Regions from separate parts of the Homo sapiens genome. Here region 1 is linked to region 2. The links come from fine-mapping of genetic effects on gene expression. A gene starts in region 2. The other region holds a variant in brackets. All regions are shown on one strand. Distances are between the middles of the regions.

Region 1 (5,313 bases), 26 kb after region 2:
CTGAACTCTACGCATGCATTTACCTCTGTACCATTAATTTACAAAGCACGATATGAAGCACAACTAGAATTCAAAATTACCTAGATCAAGATCTGGTCCTTCATCCATGGGTCCTGCCAACCAGGAAAGATCATATAAAATATTATTAGTGCACGTCTTGCAAGCTACAAACCTTACAAACACACATAGCTATCTACTATACCACCATTTGATGGGGATTCATTAAACTCAAAATGACCCGCACTGCTAAAATGGAGCAGTGTCTCTTTAACATTTGTGAAAGGTTTGCTAGGGTTTGCTTTTTTCCTTTGCTGGTTTGCTTCTAAACCATTAACCAAATACACTCTCAATGCTTATGTGCCAAATCAGTGTTAAATTTAAGTCAAAATTTTTCCTCTAAATAAACCAAATTTAAAAATTTATTCTCCCCCATATTACAGAAGCAGTTACTCAATACTTCAAGTTACCCTTTGTTTTGTAACCATAGGTTAACCTTATTAACCCCTAAGACAATGCCGGCAGTACCCATTAGTCTCTTTTGTATAGATCATTTTTAAACCACTTATGAAACTAATAAAAAAATTATAGTTTTCTAAAAACTGACTGCATTTTTTTTTAAACACTATCTATGGTAATACTCAAAAACTTACCACCAGGCTTATTGAAGCCACCTCGCTCTCCAGCGCTGCTGGGGGGATAAACGAAGAAATGAAGGCCTTTCCCTTTAAAAGCCAGTACCGCTCTGAGCCTTGGGGGGGCTCGTGGGGAAGAAGGGCACTGGCTAAACACATCTCCAAACAATGCATCTCTCTCATCTTGTCACTATGCCTTTCTTCAGGGCAGCTTGCTCAAATTTCCTCAATATACAACCTTGCTTGTCTGATTGTACACACCAGTGTGGTTGGTTCCTTTCATTTCGGGGGCTGGTATTAATAGTGCAATACTTGGCAAATTAGCAAGAAAAAATAGATCCCAAACACCCACCCCGTCAGGTGAAAAACCAGAAGAGCTTGGTATAGAGGGGAGGAGCAAGTGGGGGTTAACTGCTGTGATAAACCTTTCCATGTTCATAAAGGTGCACCCTCAACCTCTCCCAAGGGAGAGCCAAATGAGGCCCAGGGTTTCCTAACAAGTCACAGTATAATAAAAGCAGGAGACAACCACATTAAATTCCTACAACACACATCAGAGGACGCATCCAGCCAATCTTCAGCATAAAGCCATACATCTCAGGGCACGAATAGATTTAACAATCGCTGTGAAAGGAGAATTTACAACAAATACCAAGGCTCAACGGACTGGGGGTGCAACTTTATAGACATATCAGTTAGAATAATGACTATGGCCATGTAAAATTACTTAAAGAGGGGAGAGGGAAATATGAATTGGACTTTTTGGGTTAGATTTTGTTTTCTTTAAAATTAAATAAAGGCAGCTCCCCAGTGGGAGGCCCTGAGTTTTTTCTAACCAGTATTGCACCTTTAATACCTGAATATACAATTTCAAGCTGTTGCATGCAGCTTTGTTTCCTTTTTAAAAGTACACACCATAAAATGTTCTCTCTCTTTAAACACAAAAGTTTACACTTTAATGTTACACAATTCTAGAGTATTATACCTCCTCTGGTTCATTACCAAACAACAAGTATGCAGTTACCAAAGTTACAGAAGGATTCCATTTATACAATGAATACATTTTGTTAAAAATATTCTATGTATATTTTTCCTCTCCATATGGACACCGTGTCTAGTCCCACTTTTCATTATGCTGCCGGCTGAGTACTGAGTACGGGTACTTTTTAAGTATTGAAGTGTATACAAGGCTCTCACTTTGTAACCTGTAGCATATAAATGCGACAAAGCATGTTAAAAAGTTTCCACGTTTAACAGCCAATGAAAATATCAAAATACTGAGGCAATGAAAAAGGGCATGTTAACAACATTGAGTGCCTTACCTGTACAAGACACTGAAAACCATCACCACACCACAATAAAAAGGGGGGCAACGAGGGAAATGCCCGTCTATCCCCACAGGATCCGACAGACTGCTTCACAGTCTGTTGAAAAACCTATGGGGAAAGCCATGGTCTCTTCTATGGCTGCAAGAGAGACTTCTCATCCAGAAAGAGGGGCCCCCTCTACTAGCAAAGTCTAGCACAATTAGTAGGATTATAACTTCTGGAGTATTTAAATAAACTTGAAATTGTATTTGCAATTTAAAAATACTAGGAATTCTAGGTGATTTGAGACGTGATGATAGTACTTTCAAGTGTCTATGTCTATTTTAAAACATCCAAAAAGAAGTGAAACCTTTATAATAGAGTATTTTCCAAATCAGAAGATTGATTTTACTTCATACCGAATCATTAAATTTTTGCCTGTTGTCAAATGACTTTCTTCCAATAAAGATTTCACTAAAGACTTTCTTAAAGTTATGCAGAATATGCAAAATAGTACTGTCTTTCAGTAGTGAAGAGTATTTGCT[A/T]ATATGGAAGTTAAAAATCAACTTTAATTTTGAAGTTCATTCTGTTTTTTAAAAAATGCTATTTAATTTTTCCTTGAATAGTGGCACACCGTATCAAATGTAAATATCTAACATTCTGCATAACTTTTTTTTTTCTTTACCAGTTTATATAGGGACAGAACACACACAGAACTAAGCCTTCTGGATTATGTTAACCACCAATATTATAGCTCACCTTCATCAAAGTACAGACACCAGATAGGGAAAAGGGGATGGGAGAAGGGAGGGGAAGGGCAGGCAGAGGCAGCAGGGTTATGTCATTGATCTAAACAAAGTTTTCTAAACCAGATTGTGCCATCAATCAAAATGGTCAAACCGATTTAGACTTTCAACATCTCCAGTAGGAAGTGAGCCCATAATTATATACATTACTCTGCAAAATGCTATTGGATTTTTCTTTGCTCCATCCAAACTCTATGTAATCAGGTGCACCTCAGGCTATAGTTTAAGGATTATGGGACCAAAATCTTCATATGTTCAACGATTCTGAGTACAAACAGAAGTTGGGGACAAACACTGTGGAAAACAGCTGCATTCCTTTTCTGCAGTATATACACCAGGTATTTCAAGACAACCATTCAAAGGCAGTTAGTTAACAACTTAGGGTCATTAGAAGGGTTGTGTGTGTTCCATCCCAAATCTACTACCCACAGAGGCTTCTCACCTCTGGAAACCATGAAGGGAACTGAAAGCTCTGGTTTCAAAACCATTCTTTGTTCTCCCCGACCCAACGAAGTATACTGGCAGGGAAAGAAAATAAACTGCCACTTAATATATGCCACAAAGATGACATTTCCATGTTTTAGAAGATGGCTTGAGCTCAACAGATTGTCCATGGAAATGCAGAAATTAATTTCTTATGTCTTTCAGTCCCTTCTTTCCACTGAAAATCCTATGGATGAAACAAAATTAGGTAAAAGGAGAAAAGGTTTGCTCTTACCCCATTCCACCGCGTCCTCCTCCCCGCCCACCTCTGCTCATGCCTCCACGATCAAATCCCCCTCTTCCCCTGCCCCGGTTATCAGGGCCACTCATGCTCCGGTTCTCTCCTGGTCCGGAAAATCCTCCAGACTCCTGCCCATAAACACCCATGCTACTGGGGTGGTCCTGTCGGAATGAACCTGAGGAAAGAGTCACATCTGTAAGCCATGGACCAGCATTTACACCACTGCCTGATGTACTTTCTCCTGGAATCACAAAATCCTCAATTCCAAGGCACTAACCAAGGCACCATCTTCTTTACATCACGATAAAGCATCCTTAATAGGTAGGCTCTTTTAAGTTCAACAAAACTGCTGGATCATCACAGCTGAAATAACCTTATATAGTTAGCCTATAATAAACCTCTTCTAAATAACAACAACAAAAAAAGCCCTCTGGCTAACATATAGTTTATAGGGTTCTATATCCTAAGATGTCTCCAAAAGCAGCTTCTTTTGAGCTAAACTCAAGAAATGAAAACAGAGCCAGGTTTCTTAGGGCTTTAGCACACTGCTAGGGGCTGAGCTCCATAAATCAACACTACTCCTTTGAGTTGTTGAGAAATCCCCGTGGATAGAATGTAATTTAAAAAGAGCAATGATCCTAAATTCTGAAGATAATTATGTGTTTTGGTTACCTCTCTCCATACAGAAGAACTGCAAATATTCTGTGAGGAGGATTATTTTTCCCCCTTTCCTTTTCTATTTTCTTAAAGAATCTTTATTTATCTTTAAAAAGACAGGGTCTCACTATGTTGCCCAGGGTGGTCTCAAACTCCTGGTCTCAAGTGATCCTCCTGCCTTGGCCTCCCCCAAAGTGCTGGGATTACAGGTGTGAGCCACCATGCCTGGCCATTTTTCCCCTTAATGGATATAAACAAACAGCAACAAAAAAACATAGCTTTTACTTGACTATCAAAATCATAGTGGCCTGCAATAGCTGCCTCCCCACTTTACATTAATGACTGATAGGGAGGCCAAAAACGATGTTGAATTTACTCACTGCATACAACTTCCCCAAAGACAGCAGGGCTAGCAGTCTAAAACATTTTTTCTGATCAATTAGTATCTCTTTTCTTTTTTGCCAAGGCATACTAAAAACAAATTGGAAAAAAGCACTGAAATCTTCACTGGGGCATCCAAGATGTTAGCTGGAATGCCATGCCCTAAAGATGTGTCCTGGATTCCAAAAGCAAACAATGGCAAAGAGTATTCCCCCTGTTCAAAAACTCCAAACGTGGCTGGGCGCAGTGGCTCATGACTGTAATCCCAACACTCTGGGTGGCTGAGGCGGGAGGATCACCTGAGGTCAGGAGTTCGAGACCAGCCTGACCAACATGGTGAAACCCCGTCTCTACGAAAAATACAAAAAATAGCTGGGCATAGTGGCAGGCGCCTATCATCTCAGCTACTCGGGAGGCTGGGGCAGGAGAATTGCTTGAACCAGGAGGCGGAGGCTGCAGTGAGCTGAGATGGCACCACTGTACTCCAGCCTCAGCCCCAAGAGTGAAACTCCATCTCAAAAGAAAAACAAACCAACAAAAAAAATCAACCCCACAAAAAAACTCTAAACACATTCATTCTTATTTGGTTTTCTCTCTTAGCAACTCACTCTGCTGCCCGTAGCTGCTGCTCTGTTGGCTATATTGACTTGGAGCTTGGCTGTAGGATCCAGTTTGGGGTGGGTAACTAGTGGGAGGCTGCTGCCCATAGCTGCTTTGTTGACCATAGCTACTCTGCTGTCCATAGCTGCTCGGTTGCCCATAGGTGTTCTGCTGAGAGTAACTGCTCTGATCATAACTAGTCGGCT
Region 2 (5,371 bases):
GAGCCCTGGATAGGGGCATTCAAGGAGTGCCCAGGAGGCCCCTGGGGAATAGGGATTGGAGGGGGGCAGCAGGCAGGAGGCCTACAGCCTTTCCTTGGGGAAGGAATGAGGGGACTGATGAGAGAACCCTGAAATCCACATCCCAGGCAGACAGGCAGCTTCAGCCCCCCAGCCTGCTGGTCTTTAGGAAGCCTGGCACAGGGCTGCACACTCCCATTAGAGCTCATTTCAGCCCCTGTGGATGGGGGGCTCCACGGGACCTAGAGGCCTCCCCAAGTCCCTCCCGACAGGGGGCTGAGTGGTCACTGGGGGCTGAGCTTCAGTTGAGTACTTCCTGAGAACCCTCTGGGTCCAGATGAAGCCAGGCTTCTCAGCCAGGCTCTGGAGCCCAAGGGCCTGGGTTCCGGCCCCTGTGCTGCCATTTTCCTGCTAGGCAACTGTGGCCCAATCATGGCGTCCCAGGGAGCCTTAGTGAGCATGAGGCTGTGGGTCAGGCTTGGCACATCGCAGGCCCTTGATAAATGGGCACTGCTGCTAGGAACGCTGCTGTGAGAGTCTCCTAGGGAACATGGCACGTTTGCAGGGCTTCATGGGAGCCTCAGGACGTTCCCAGTCCACAGTGCCCCTTCCCCTCGCCATCCAAAAACACATACTGGGAGCCAGAGACGCCTCACACACAGCTCTGTTTGCAGTGTCGGAAGGAGAAGCAAGGAAAGTTTTTCAGAGAAAGAATACCCAGGGGTGGGCGGGAGTGCGCCTAGCATTGAGAACACCTTAAAAAAGACCGTCCTGGCCGGGCGCAGTGGCTCATGCCTGAAACCCCAGCACTTTGGGAGGCTGAGGCGGGTGGATCACCTGAGGTCAGCAGTTCGAGACCAGCCTGACCAATATGGTGAAACCCCGTCTCTACTAAAAAACACAAAAATTAGCCGGGCATGGTGGCATGTGCCTGTAGTCCCAGCTACTCTAGAGGCTGAGACAGGAGAATTGCTTGAACCCAGGAGGTGGAGGTTGCAGTGAGCCAAGATCGCACCACTGCACTCCAGCCTGGGTGACAGACCGAGACTCCATCTCAAAACAAACAAACAAAAGACCGTCCTGGTGTCAGCTTTTCAGACTTCTGGGTTTTGTTGTTGTGTTGCTGAGTGCCTTGTTATTTACTCCTTGCCTTGTTCCCCGAAGGAATTGAAGCAGCTCACAAAACCCAGAAGCCTGAAAAGTCAAAAACCCAGAAGTTTGGCCAGATGTGGTGGCTCACGCCTGTAATCCTCGCACTTTTGGAGGCTGAGGAGGGAGGATTGCTTAAGCCAGGAGTTCAAGACCAGCCTGGGCAACATAGTGAGATTCCACCTCTACAAAAAATAAAAATAAATCAGCTGGATGTCGTAGTACACACCTGCAGTCCCAGCTATTTGAGAGACTGAGGCAAGGAGGATCACTTGAACCCAGGAGGTTGAGGATGCAGTGAGCTAAGATCACACCACTGCACTCCAGCTTGGGTGACAGAGCAAGACCTTGTCTCAAACAACAAAACCCAGAAGTCTGAAAAGTTACAACGTGAAAGAGGACATCAAGTGAAGGGAAAAATCATGGTAGGAAAGAAAGATGAAGCCAGCAGTCCCCACTCACTGAGCTAGAAGACCTGGAACACTAGACAGAGGTGGTTCTGAGCTTCCTAGTGGCTGAGGAGAGGAGTGAAAGCGGACCCCAGCCCCCGATCTAGCATGGGAGGATGAAAGCACAGCCATTGTTCTGGAGACACTTTCTGGTTGTCATTATACAGGCTCCCTGGAGGATGTGCCTCCTCCCCCTTCAGGATTTAGCTCCTCTACTTCCCCTGGGCTGGTGTGGGCACATTGTCTGTGCTTTGACAGTCCCTAGATCCCATGTGTTCTAGAACCTTCTCTCCCAAAGCAGAACTTTTTTTTTTTTTCCTGTTTTCTGTTTTTTAAATCTATCTCAGCCTCCTGACAAGCAATAAGATTTGGAATATTTGTTGAGGGGATAAATAAATGAACTCCTTAGTCAGTGCAGAGATCTGTGCATTGCGGCCATTTCTTGAGCATTGCCGCCATTTCTTGAGCATTGCCATGTGCAGGTCAGAGACGTGGGAGCCCCCACACAGCGGGGAGGAGAGCAGAGGCGGAGGATGGGGGGGCTGGGCTAACCCAGGCTTTCCAAGCTGTGATGGGGCAGGAGCTTCTCCACTAGCTCGAGGGAGGGGGAACTTGGGCTCTGGGCGCCTGTTTTGGAGGTTGCATCCCTTTGAGGGGCGCTACGGGTTGCAACTCACGCAGGAAAGGTGACCTTAGTAGTGATGGAGGTGGAGTGGGCCAATTTCTGGATCTTTATTTAGTCACCTCCAGCCTTGCTGGGACAGGGATCTGGGGCTAAGCTGCTGTGGTCTCGGCACCCTCTGTCCCCACTTCCCCTCGAGGACGGCTGTTTGAATATTGTCTAGTGTGGGCCATTTACCCCCGTGGGCAGGAGGAAGGTAGGAGGGACTTCAAAGGAGACTTCAAGGGCCCCCCCACTGCCCTTCTAACCTTGCAGATTCCCCTCTCGGGCCTGTTTCCTCTTCTCTCAACCAGCGATGCCAGGCTGAGGCTGTAGGTTCGAGAATCACGTAGGTAATGGGCCTGGCACATAGTAGGCTCTCAAGAAAAGGTTGGAGCCTCTTGAGGAGTCTGCCTGTGATGGATGCGGAGCGCAGACCCAGCGCAGTGCGGCGATTCGCCCAAGGTCACACAGCCGCCCCCCCCAATTCGGACCCCGGGCGGCCTGACTCCGGGGGCCGGGGCTTGTCGGGAGCCAGCGTGGGGGCGAGCAGTGTTTGGAAGAGCGGCCGCGGCAGTGGGTGGGAAGGGGCTTCTATTTTGGAGCGGGTGAGAGGAGCGGGACACGCGGAGGAGGTAAGGAAGGGGTAGGCCCTCTCCGGGATCTCTGTCCCCCAGTCACCTTCCTGCGACCCTTCCTGGGAGGGGCGTCCTGGGCGGTGGGGGAAGGTGGGAGGGGCGGGCGGTTACCTCATCGCCGCCTCCGGGAGGCCCCGCTCGCTCGCGCCGGCGGCTGGGGCGGCGACTCCAGGCGCGGAAGCGAGAGAAGGATAGAGGCACAGAGGCTCCGGGAGGCAGCGCTGCCCCCCGCGCCCCGCACCGCTGCGGGACCCGCGCCGCGAGAGGGGCGGACTTCGGCGCCTCGCGCGTCCGCCGGCGCCTGGGTTGGCGCTGCGGGGCGGAGGCGGTGTCTGAGCGCCGCTCCGGCTCTGCTCTCTCTCGAGCTTCGGCACCCGCCCGAGCCGCTCGCGCGCCCGCCACCTGTCTGCCCACTCGGCTGTCTGTCTGCCCTCCCGCCGCCAGCTCCTGCCTCGGGCCTGCCCTCTCCGGTCTCGGTGCTCCGAGGGGCGACGAGAAGCGCGACGGGGCCGTGGCGCACCGGGCAGGGCGCGCGGGGCGCACGGCCTGGGGGCGCACGGTGCGGCGCCGGCCCATGAGGCTTTCCAGCGCGGGGAGCGACAGCGCCGGCCGGCCATGGGGGGTAGCCTGCGGGTGGCCGTTCTAGGCGCCCCGGGCGTGGGCAAGACGGCCATCATCCGCCAGTTCCTGTTCGGTGACTACCCCGAGCGCCACCGGCCCACGGACGGGCCGCGCCTCTACCGACCCGCGGTGCTGCTCGACGGCGCCGTCTACGACTTGAGCATCCGCGACGGCGACGTCGCTGGCCCCGGCTCGAGCCCCGGGGGTCCGGAGGTAGCGGCTCGAGGAGCGGGCAGGGGCGTGTGACAGTGTGAGGGGTGTGCGTGCTCGGTGCACACGTGCGTGTCCGCGTGGAGGCCTCGGGCGCCTGGCTGTGCTCCGGGATGGAGGGATGTGTGTGCGTCCTGGGATACTTGCGTTTCAGCCCTTCCCGCCGACCTGGAGACGCCCAAGCCCAGGCTGGAGGCCGGGCGATTTTGCCCAGGGGCGTTCCCTTGCTCCTGTGAGCGCCTCCACCTTTGCCTGCCTCGGCTGGGGGTGTGGAGCAGCTCTTGGTGGTGCATAACGGTGCCTTCCCGAGAGTGTGGCGTTTTGTGTTTGGGGCCTTGAGCAGAGCTACAATGGGAGAGACTGGGGTCAGGAGCAGGGGTGTACTTTCTACGGGGGCTGGTGGAGGGGTTCATTCTCTGCCCTATCATTTTTGTCCCCTGGAGCGAAGACTCGTTTAGTAATTTGTGCAAAGTAAAGGACAGACCTCCGACCCTAGAGCAGTGAAGAGGAAAGAGCAGGCAGGATTAAGCAGGGCTTCCTGGAGGGAGTGGCATTTGAGCTGAACCTGGAAGACCGAGTGAAGTTCTGAGTAAAGGAAGTGGCAAAAACATACCAGGTGGAAAGACCAGCAGGTGCTTACGCTACGGTCATAAACGGTTACAGCTGACAATCTGGGGGCGTGGTGGACCACGGGACTCGGGCCAAGGGCTTTGGAATTAGTCTTAGAGGCCGTGGTAAGCACCGAGAGCATCTAGGGAGGAGAGCGGCCTGAGCCGAGTTGGGGAAAGCTGAAAAGAGGAAGATTCGGGGTAAACAGAGGGGAGACCAAGGATGAAGGAGGCTGGCTGACAGGCTCCAGGCACGATTTGGAAAATTTTACCCTGGTGGTCATGAGGAGACGGCCCGGAAAGCTTGGGGGAGGGGCACAGAGGTCTGTATGGGGGTGATGTTGGCCTGAGGATTAGCGTCCAGGCCCCTGCAGAGGGTTCGAGAGCGGAAGAGTGGAAAGGAGGCTTCCGCAAACCCTGGCCTCCTGTCCCCAGGAGTGGCCAGACGCTAAGGACTGGAGCTTGCAGGACACGGACGCCTTCGTGCTCGTCTACGACATCTGCAGCCCGGACAGTTTCGACTACGTGAAGGCCCTGCGGCAGCGCATCGCGGAGACCAGGTAGGGGCCCGGCAGTTCTGGCGGTGGGGAGCTAGGACAGGTCTGGCAGGGCCTTTGCCTGAGGAGAGTGTGTAGGGTCTCCCAACGTCGTGGGCCGGGTCTTAGGCCTTCGCCCGTGGGAAGGTCTTAAGCTGTATGTGCTCTTTGGCCCACATGGGCCTGGGGTTTCGTTGGGGCGGCGGGGGGGGCGGTGTCTCTGGCCGTAGGAAGGGAATGCGCCTGCGTGTGTATACCCACTGGGGGAATTCTCCGGCCGTGGGGTCCCCGCGTCTCTCATCTCCATTCGGCCCCCAGGCCGGCGGGCGCGCCCGAAGCGCCCATCCTCGTGGTAGGCAACAAGCGGGACAGGCAGCGGCTGCGCTTCGGACCGCGGCGCGCGCTGGCCGCCCTAGTGCGCAGGGGCTGGCGCTGCGGCTACCTCGAGTGCTCCGCCAAGTACAACTGGCACGTGCTGCGT

The links. PIP is the estimated chance that this variant, and not a neighbour inherited with it, causes the effect.
Region 1: its variant is the best candidate, but not a certain one, in a credible set for the expression of RASL10A in whole blood (TOPMed, PIP 0.69).

What each region holds. Positions count from the first base shown.
Region 1 is chr22:29,286,937-29,292,249 of GRCh38, reverse strand. EWSR1 (EWS RNA binding protein 1) reads right to left here. Exons shown (of 17, transcript NM_005243.4): 7 at 5,116-5,313; 8 at 3,464-3,644; 9 at 651-688; 10 at 81-113. Among named protein-coding and RNA genes, the nearest start is that of GAS2L1, 17 kb to the left of the region's middle. The variant A/T (reference allele first, on the strand shown) is at 2,485.
Region 2 is chr22:29,313,406-29,318,776 of GRCh38, reverse strand. RASL10A (RAS like family 10 member A) reads left to right here and starts at 3,080. Exons shown (of 3, transcript NM_006477.5): 1 at 3,080-3,749; 2 at 4,790-4,914; 3 at 5,209-5,371. The coding sequence starts at 3,531. RefSeq lists enhancers at 3,084-3,888, 3,889-4,693.